2 linked regions of the Homo sapiens genome follow. The protein of the gene in region 1 interacts with the protein of each later gene in a pairwise test. Each region holds a gene or a part of one and is shown in the gene's direction. Other genes may lie near its edges.

What was found. Proteins that work in one complex are often made in the same cells at the same time.
Region 2: the proteins of TMX2 (region 1) and SFXN1 interact in binary tests that used the Homo sapiens proteins (3 or more experiments, as listed by UniProt).

The regions. Positions count from the first base shown.
Region 1 is NC_000011.10:57,719,093-57,722,592, forward strand, and holds part of TMX2 (thioredoxin-related transmembrane protein 2 isoform 1 precursor), read left to right. Parts: intron 1-3,500.
Region 2 is NC_000005.10:175,481,560-175,485,059, forward strand, and holds part of SFXN1 (sideroflexin-1), read left to right. Parts: intron 1-3,500. UniProt on the Homo sapiens protein: Amino acid transporter importing serine, an essential substrate of the mitochondrial branch of the one-carbon pathway, into mitochondria.

The DNA.
Region 1 (3,500 bases):
TGGTGCAATCTTGGCTCACTGCAACCTCCATCTCCTGGGTTCAAGCGATTCTCCTGCCTCAGCCTCCTGAGTAGCTGGGATTACAGGTGCACGCCACCACGCCCGGCTAATTTTTTGTATTTTTAGTAGAGACGGGTTTTCACCATGTTGGCCAGGATGGTCTCGATCTCCTGAACTCGTGATCCAGCTGCCTCGGCCTCCCAAAGTGCTGGGATTACAGGCATGAGCTACCGTGCCTGGCCAATTTTTTTATTTTTTAAAGGCTTTCTGCTTTTTCTCTTTTGGATCTCATGCCCTGGGAAATTTTTTCAGTTCACTGAAACCCCCTTTAAAAAAAAATTATGTTTAGTCCTTGTGTTCACTTCCTTTCTTGTTGGCATGATCTTTGCTGAGAAAAATGTAAAATTTCTTTTTTCTTTGTCTTTTTTTTTTTTTTTTTTTTTTTTGAGACAGGGTCTCACTCTGTTGCCCAGGCTGGAGTGCAATGGTGAGATGTCACCTTACTGCAACCTTGACCTCCCGGGCTCAAGTATTCCACCTCAGCCTTCTGAGTAGCTGGGATTATAGGTGCACACCACCACGCCCGGCTAATTTTTGTATTTTTTGTAGAGATGGGGTTTCGCCATGTTGCACAGGCTGATCTTGAACTCCTGGGCTCAAGTGGTACATTTTCCCTCAGCCTCCCAAAGTGCTGGGACTATAGGCATGAACTACTGCACCCTGCCTTGAAAATGTAAAATTTCATTAGCCTTTTGGGGAAGCTTAAAATCTCTCCAAATTGGCTTCTCCAAAACTGGTTGTTCCATGTATTTCTACTTCTTCCTTTTGCCACCTTTGATAACCCTTAAAGGGGTCTAGATGGGACTTCTGACAACCCTGAGATCCCTTGAGGAAGACAAAAAAAAGGTGCCACTGGTTGGGCGCGGTGGCTCACGCCTATAATCCCAGCACTTTGGGAAGCTGAAGCAGGTGGATTACCTGAGGTCAGAAGTTTAAAATCAGCCTGGCCAACGTGGTGAAACCCCATCTCTACTAAAAATACAAAAAAAAAAAAAAAAAAAGGTGCCACTGACCCTCTCTTTTGGGGCCTCTCGTTTTCCTTATAGAGCCCCAAAAGTCACTAATGGGTTCATGTCAGGTTTAAAACTCTTCTCTCTTTTGAATTAAACTCTCTAGTCTTTGGCTTTTGTATCGATACATGTGTCTATATATGTATGTATATGTCTATACATGTGTTTATTGTGTATATGGTACCAATAACGAATGAGTACCCCCAAAAGTCAGGAGTCAACAAATGGAAATTCAAAACAAAACTTTTTCTTTTTTTTGAAACAGAGTCTTGCTCTATCGCCCAGGCTGGAGTGCTTTAGCATGATCTCTACTCACTGCAACCTCTGCCTCCAGATTAAGCGATTCTCATACCTCAACCTCCTGAGTAGCTGGGATCACAGGCGTGTGCCATCACACACGGCTAATTTTTGTATTTTAGTGGAGACAGTTTCACCACGTTAGTTAGGCTGATCTCGAACTTCTGGCCTCAAGCCATCCGCCCGCTTTGGCCTCCCACAGTGCTGGGATTACAGGCGTGAGCCATCGTGCCTGGCCTCAAACTAATTTTTATAAGTGTTTCTTTTTTTTCCTCTGAGTTAAAAGACTTGCATCTGCAATGGACTGTTACCTTACAAGGAATCGAACCCACGCTGCAGCAGCTAACCAGTTTATTGCCAGCCACTAGACCACAGATCATAGTGCCTTTTTGCAGGCCCTTCAGGGGATCCAAAACAAGCAGTTTGAGTGTACAAAGAATTTTAACTTGTGTTTTGAATCTGATTTCTGTCTTTTAAAAATCTTGCCAAGGGAGTTTCTAAGGCTGTGTTCTTTCTGTATCTTTTTATGGGTACTAGAAAGATAGCTGTTTTTTTTTTTTTTCCTCAGGCCAGGTACGGTGGCTGTAATCCTAGCACTTTGGGAGGCCAAGGCGTGTGGATTGCCTGAACTCAGGAGTTCGAGACCAGCCTGGGCAATACAGTGAAACCCCGTCTCTACTAACATACAAAATATTAGCCGGGTGTGGTGGTGTGTGCCTGCAATCCCAGCTACCTGGGAGGTTGAGGCAGGAGAATTGCTTGAACTGGGAGGCAGAGGTTGCAGTGAGCTGAGATAGTGCCACCGCACCCCAGCCTAGGTGACAGAGTGAGACTCCATCTCCAATCAATCAATCAATCAATGTTTTATTTAAATAAATAAATAAAGTTTTTTTTTTTTTTTTTTTTGAGATGGAGTTTTGCTCTTGTTGCCTAGGCTGGAGTGCAATGGCTCAGTCTCGGCTCACCACAACCTCAGCCTCCTGAGTAGCTGGGATTACAGGCATGTGCCACCATGCCCAGCTAATTTTGTATTTTTAGTAGACATGGGGTTTTTCCATGTTGGTCAGGCTGTTCTCAAGCTCCCAATCTCAGGTGATCCACCAGCCTCGGCCTCCCAAAGTGCTGGGATTACAGGTATAAGCCACTGTGCCTGGTCTAAAATGTTTTTTAAATAAAGCCAATTTACTTAGCGACTTAAGCCAATAAGCCTTCTTCATGGAAAGTCTCAGAGGTAATTTTCTAGGTTCAGAATACCAGATGATATAACCCTCACATTCCCCCAAAATATTTACTTTCAAAAATAGGCTAAGATAGCGAAAGACTCTTGTTTTCATAGACAGTTAAGGATGGTGTTTATGTGTGTGTTTCCTGTAGTATCCCACCAATACGTGGGGGGCTGCTAATCATAGACCTATTAATTTGAGACACCAGCTAGGCCCTCCCTGGATTGGACTTGCCCAGGACTAACCAGGCAATAAGAGTTGAGATTTCTTCCTTCTCACTGAAGTAATTTTATTTATTTATTTTTTAAATTAATTTTAAAAATTGAGGGGGGAGACAGGGTCTTGTTCTCTTACCCACGCTACAGTGCAGTGGCATGGTCGCAGTTCACTACAGCCTCAACCTGCTGCACTTAAGCCATCCTCCCACCTGAGCCTGTCAAGCAGATGGGAGTACAGGCACGTGCCAACATACATGCCCAGCTAATTTTTAAAAATCATTTGTGGAGAGGAGGTCTCACTGTGTTGCCCAGGCTGGTCTCGAACTCCTGAGCTCAAGCGATCCTCCCACCACAGCCTCCCAAAGTGCTAGGATTACAGGTGTGAGCCACCGCACCCAGCTTCAGTGAAGGAATTTTTTTAAAAGGAGAAGAAAAAGATAAAAGAGTTGAGACAATAAAATCAGGTGTGAGTCACTGCACCCGGCCCTCTTTCTCTTTTGAAAAGGCCTTGAAAGATGGCTCTCTCCTTCACCTTTTGTTGTGTCCTGTAACTTTTACTAATTATCTAAAGTAAGGGAGAAAAATTGTTTTTGAAAACAGGCAAATAAAGTATCTTTTGAACATGGCTTTTATTCTGCATGCCTGTTATATCTGTATCTTTATATGTGTCATATAGAAGTGATACTTTACTG
Region 2 (3,500 bases), on another chromosome or scaffold:
CACCTCAGCCTCCCAAAGTGCTGGGATTACAGGTGTGAGCCACCGCGCCTGGCACATGGGTGTTTTAAAGTTAGTAGAATAGTGGGATCTGCATGGGAGGGGAGAACATGGCAGTGGGAAAGGCAGGAGGCCTTGATTCTCCATGTCTTCCTGATGCTAGGCAGGCCCAACGTCTCCATGCAGAACTATCCTGGAACAGGGAAGCATATGCAACACAAATCCATTGCTGAGTGGAAATAGAATGAATCTAATGCTTTGCACAGAATTCAACTCTCTGATCTATAATTCGATCTCCTGTGTGGCCATGCCCATAAAAAAGGCCACTATATGCAGATGACCAGCCCAACAGAAATCAGGGAATTTGGTTTTTAGGCTCCTTGAGTTAGTGTGATTGTCCTTGGCAGACACATCTTCTCTGGCCTCCAAGGGTCAGAATTGAGTTTCAAAGTCAGACAGAACTGTGAAGGCTGTGTCATCTTGGGCATGGTACTAAATTTCTCCGAGCGGCTCTATAAAACAGGGGAAAAGATCTTGGAGGGCTGTCATAAGGAGTTAGCAATCTAACAATGCATGGAAAGCCTAGTGTCTGGGTGTTCCGTCATGTCCCCTGGACAGTGGACAGCAGTGACTGACCGGCTGTCTCACACCTGCCTGGCCCTAGTGAAACAAACTGGGCAATCAGACCCTTTCATAACTCTTTCAAAATACGGTAGTTTTGACCAACAGCTTTCCAGCTTAATAACGCAGTTATCATTGGTACTCTTTAGCCAAGATTAAAGGTCTTTGTACTAATTCCTCATAAAGCACATTCCCTGCTAACTTGTTTTCTACAAAATTTTGGAAAATTCTTTTTTTCTCCAGCAGTTAAGCATTTTCTTAGCATGCAGCTAAAAATTTGAAATAAAATTTATCTTGGAGATAAATTCTTTTTCTTACATGTTTCTGATGATCTTCAGGAAGCTCAGGAGCCATTCCTGGCCCCAGGAGCTGCATTTATGCACGGGACTGTGGCCAGTGAGGACAGGAGCTTCCACTCGTGGAAAACCAGCTTGTTAATAATGATCCCACTTTTGTTTGGTAACTTAATAAAGATTAATAAAGGCCTCTTATACTCTTCAGTTTGCTGATCCTACCAACTCTATGAGCCAACTCTTACCTGTGTTTTATAGATGACAGAATTGAGGCTCAGAGGTGTAAAGTAATTCACCCAGTCACATGTCTAGAAAGGAAATGATAGAATCAGGACTGAAATCTAGATTATATTTGCTTAAATCCGGTTCTCATTCCATAGGTTATCAGGGTAGATGCTCGGGAAATTACACCACAGGGCGGGGGGCCTCCATCAGCAAAAACCAGCCAGAAAAAAACAGCTGTGTGTTCGGTCTTTCCAAACCCAGGACCAAGCCAGTGTTGAGTACATAAGAGGCCTTCAGTGGATATGGAAGGCGTAAGTTAATTTTGTTGGTGAATGAATAAATAAAAAGACTTTGAGAAATCTATTGGGATGAGGCTCCATGAAACTATATTTACTCAAAACCTTAGTTAAAAGATTGAATTTAAACAGTTTTTAATTTCTCTATGAAATTATTTCCGTCTCTTTTTAGGGGTAAAATAATTTTTCAACATATATCATCTCTAAAATAATCTGTTCACTCAAATGCAGTATAATGTCATAATTATTAACAGTTCCAGGTAGCCGACATCATTGTGAGAATGTCTTTATGTGATAAAACCTCAAAGTCATTTTTCTTCTTAGCATAAGTGGCATCAGCCAACCACAGAATTTTTTTAAGTCCCACTTTTTTCTCATACCCCACCAAAATTTCTTAATACCGTTAAAATCCAAAAATTTCTTTAAAATCATTCATGAAAAAGATTCTTAGAATTAACACCTCAGTTGTCCGAGCACCAGGAAGCCACATTACAGCTAGTGCAATACACAGAGACCGTCTGTCACCAATCATTTTCTTCTAGCGCGTCTGTTCTAGCCCCTTTCTCTTCCCTCCACACCCCATTGCACCATTTCTTCAGCTCGTGAAAACTGAGCTTGCTGGACATGAGAAACCTGCCAGTGTGCCGCTGTGTAAACCATAACATTTTGCTGCTGCCTTTCTGCAGTCCTGAAGCCAGCTAATAACTGCTCAGTAAGCGCCTCTTCCACAGCTTCCCTAGGTCCCTCTGTGTCTCTGGTGGACTGGGGCCTGCTCCCCTGTCTCCTAGCCTCTCTGAGTGCCTGAAGGCACCACCCCAGCGCTTCTGCATAACTCTCAAAGCCTCAGGTGAACAGGGCAAAGAGAGCACCCTCCCCACTGACTGTCTCCGCACTCTCCCTGGCATCTTTCACTTGCTTCAGGTGCCGTGAAGCTGATGAACCCACACACTCTGGAACACATTCTTTGGCGTCCCGTGTAGTGTGTCCCTCTGAGGGACATTCTTCATGATCCTTGCCGCATCTGCAGTGGGAACGCAAACATCTTGTTCTCCAAAACTTTCTTTTGAAGTATCTGTGGTTTCATGATTATTCCTGTTCCCAGTGTCAGCACAAGGCTGTGCAGCATGACTTCCTCCAGCGCAGTCTGCAGAAATCCGGAGTCGAGAAGCCTCTGTCCTAGCACTGTCCCTATCCTAGGTCATGAAAGACTGTGATTGATGTTCAAGACACCTCTGTAACGAGATGTTTGATCTTTACCCAGTTTCAACCTTCCAGACAAGCCCAGGGGCCATAATTTGCCAGATGGATGGCTGCATAAGCCAGACCATGGAAAAACAAAGGCCATTCCTGCACAATCACCCCCACCCCATGACCTCGTTCCCTCCCCACGATGGTGCCCGCAGCAGTCCCGCCCCACAACCCGGCCCTCCTGACCCGTCAGTACCAGGTGTGCGGGGCACATGCCCTCAGCGCATCTCTGCCTTGCCCGGGGCCAGCAGGTGCACGCCGGAATGCTGCGGACCAACCAAGTGGCCCGGCCAGCCCTGACCCCTGCGGGTGGAAAAGGGTGCACCCTGGGGATCCCCACATAGCGGCCAAGGCCTTAAGGATACCAGCATCTCGCTCCCTGAATAGACTCTAGACACAAAATGGAGCCAGCACAGGGCGCGTCTCGGCGCATCCTCCTCAGCCCAGGCCCCGTGCGTAAGGAGCGCTCCGTGTCAGCGCGCTTGCTAGACCCCATTGATTTTTAGAGACGGGTTTTACTATGTTGCCCAGTGTGGTCTCCAACCTCCTAGGTTCAAGCAGTCCTTCCACCTCAGTCTCCCAAGTAGCCAGGATTACAGGTGCGCACCACCACGCTCAGTGCTGTTGACTTTAATGTGAATAGGAAATAAGTTTTGATGTTTGTTTGTTTTTTAAGTGGGGCTCCTGTTTTTTAAAAATGGATCAATTTACCTGGAGTGCAGGCTGCTCCTGAGCTTGAAGGTGGAAGTCAGTTCATGCGTGAAAGAAGTCTTGCCTAATTGAAACATGGCATCACGGTTAATAATTAAAATGTTATCTG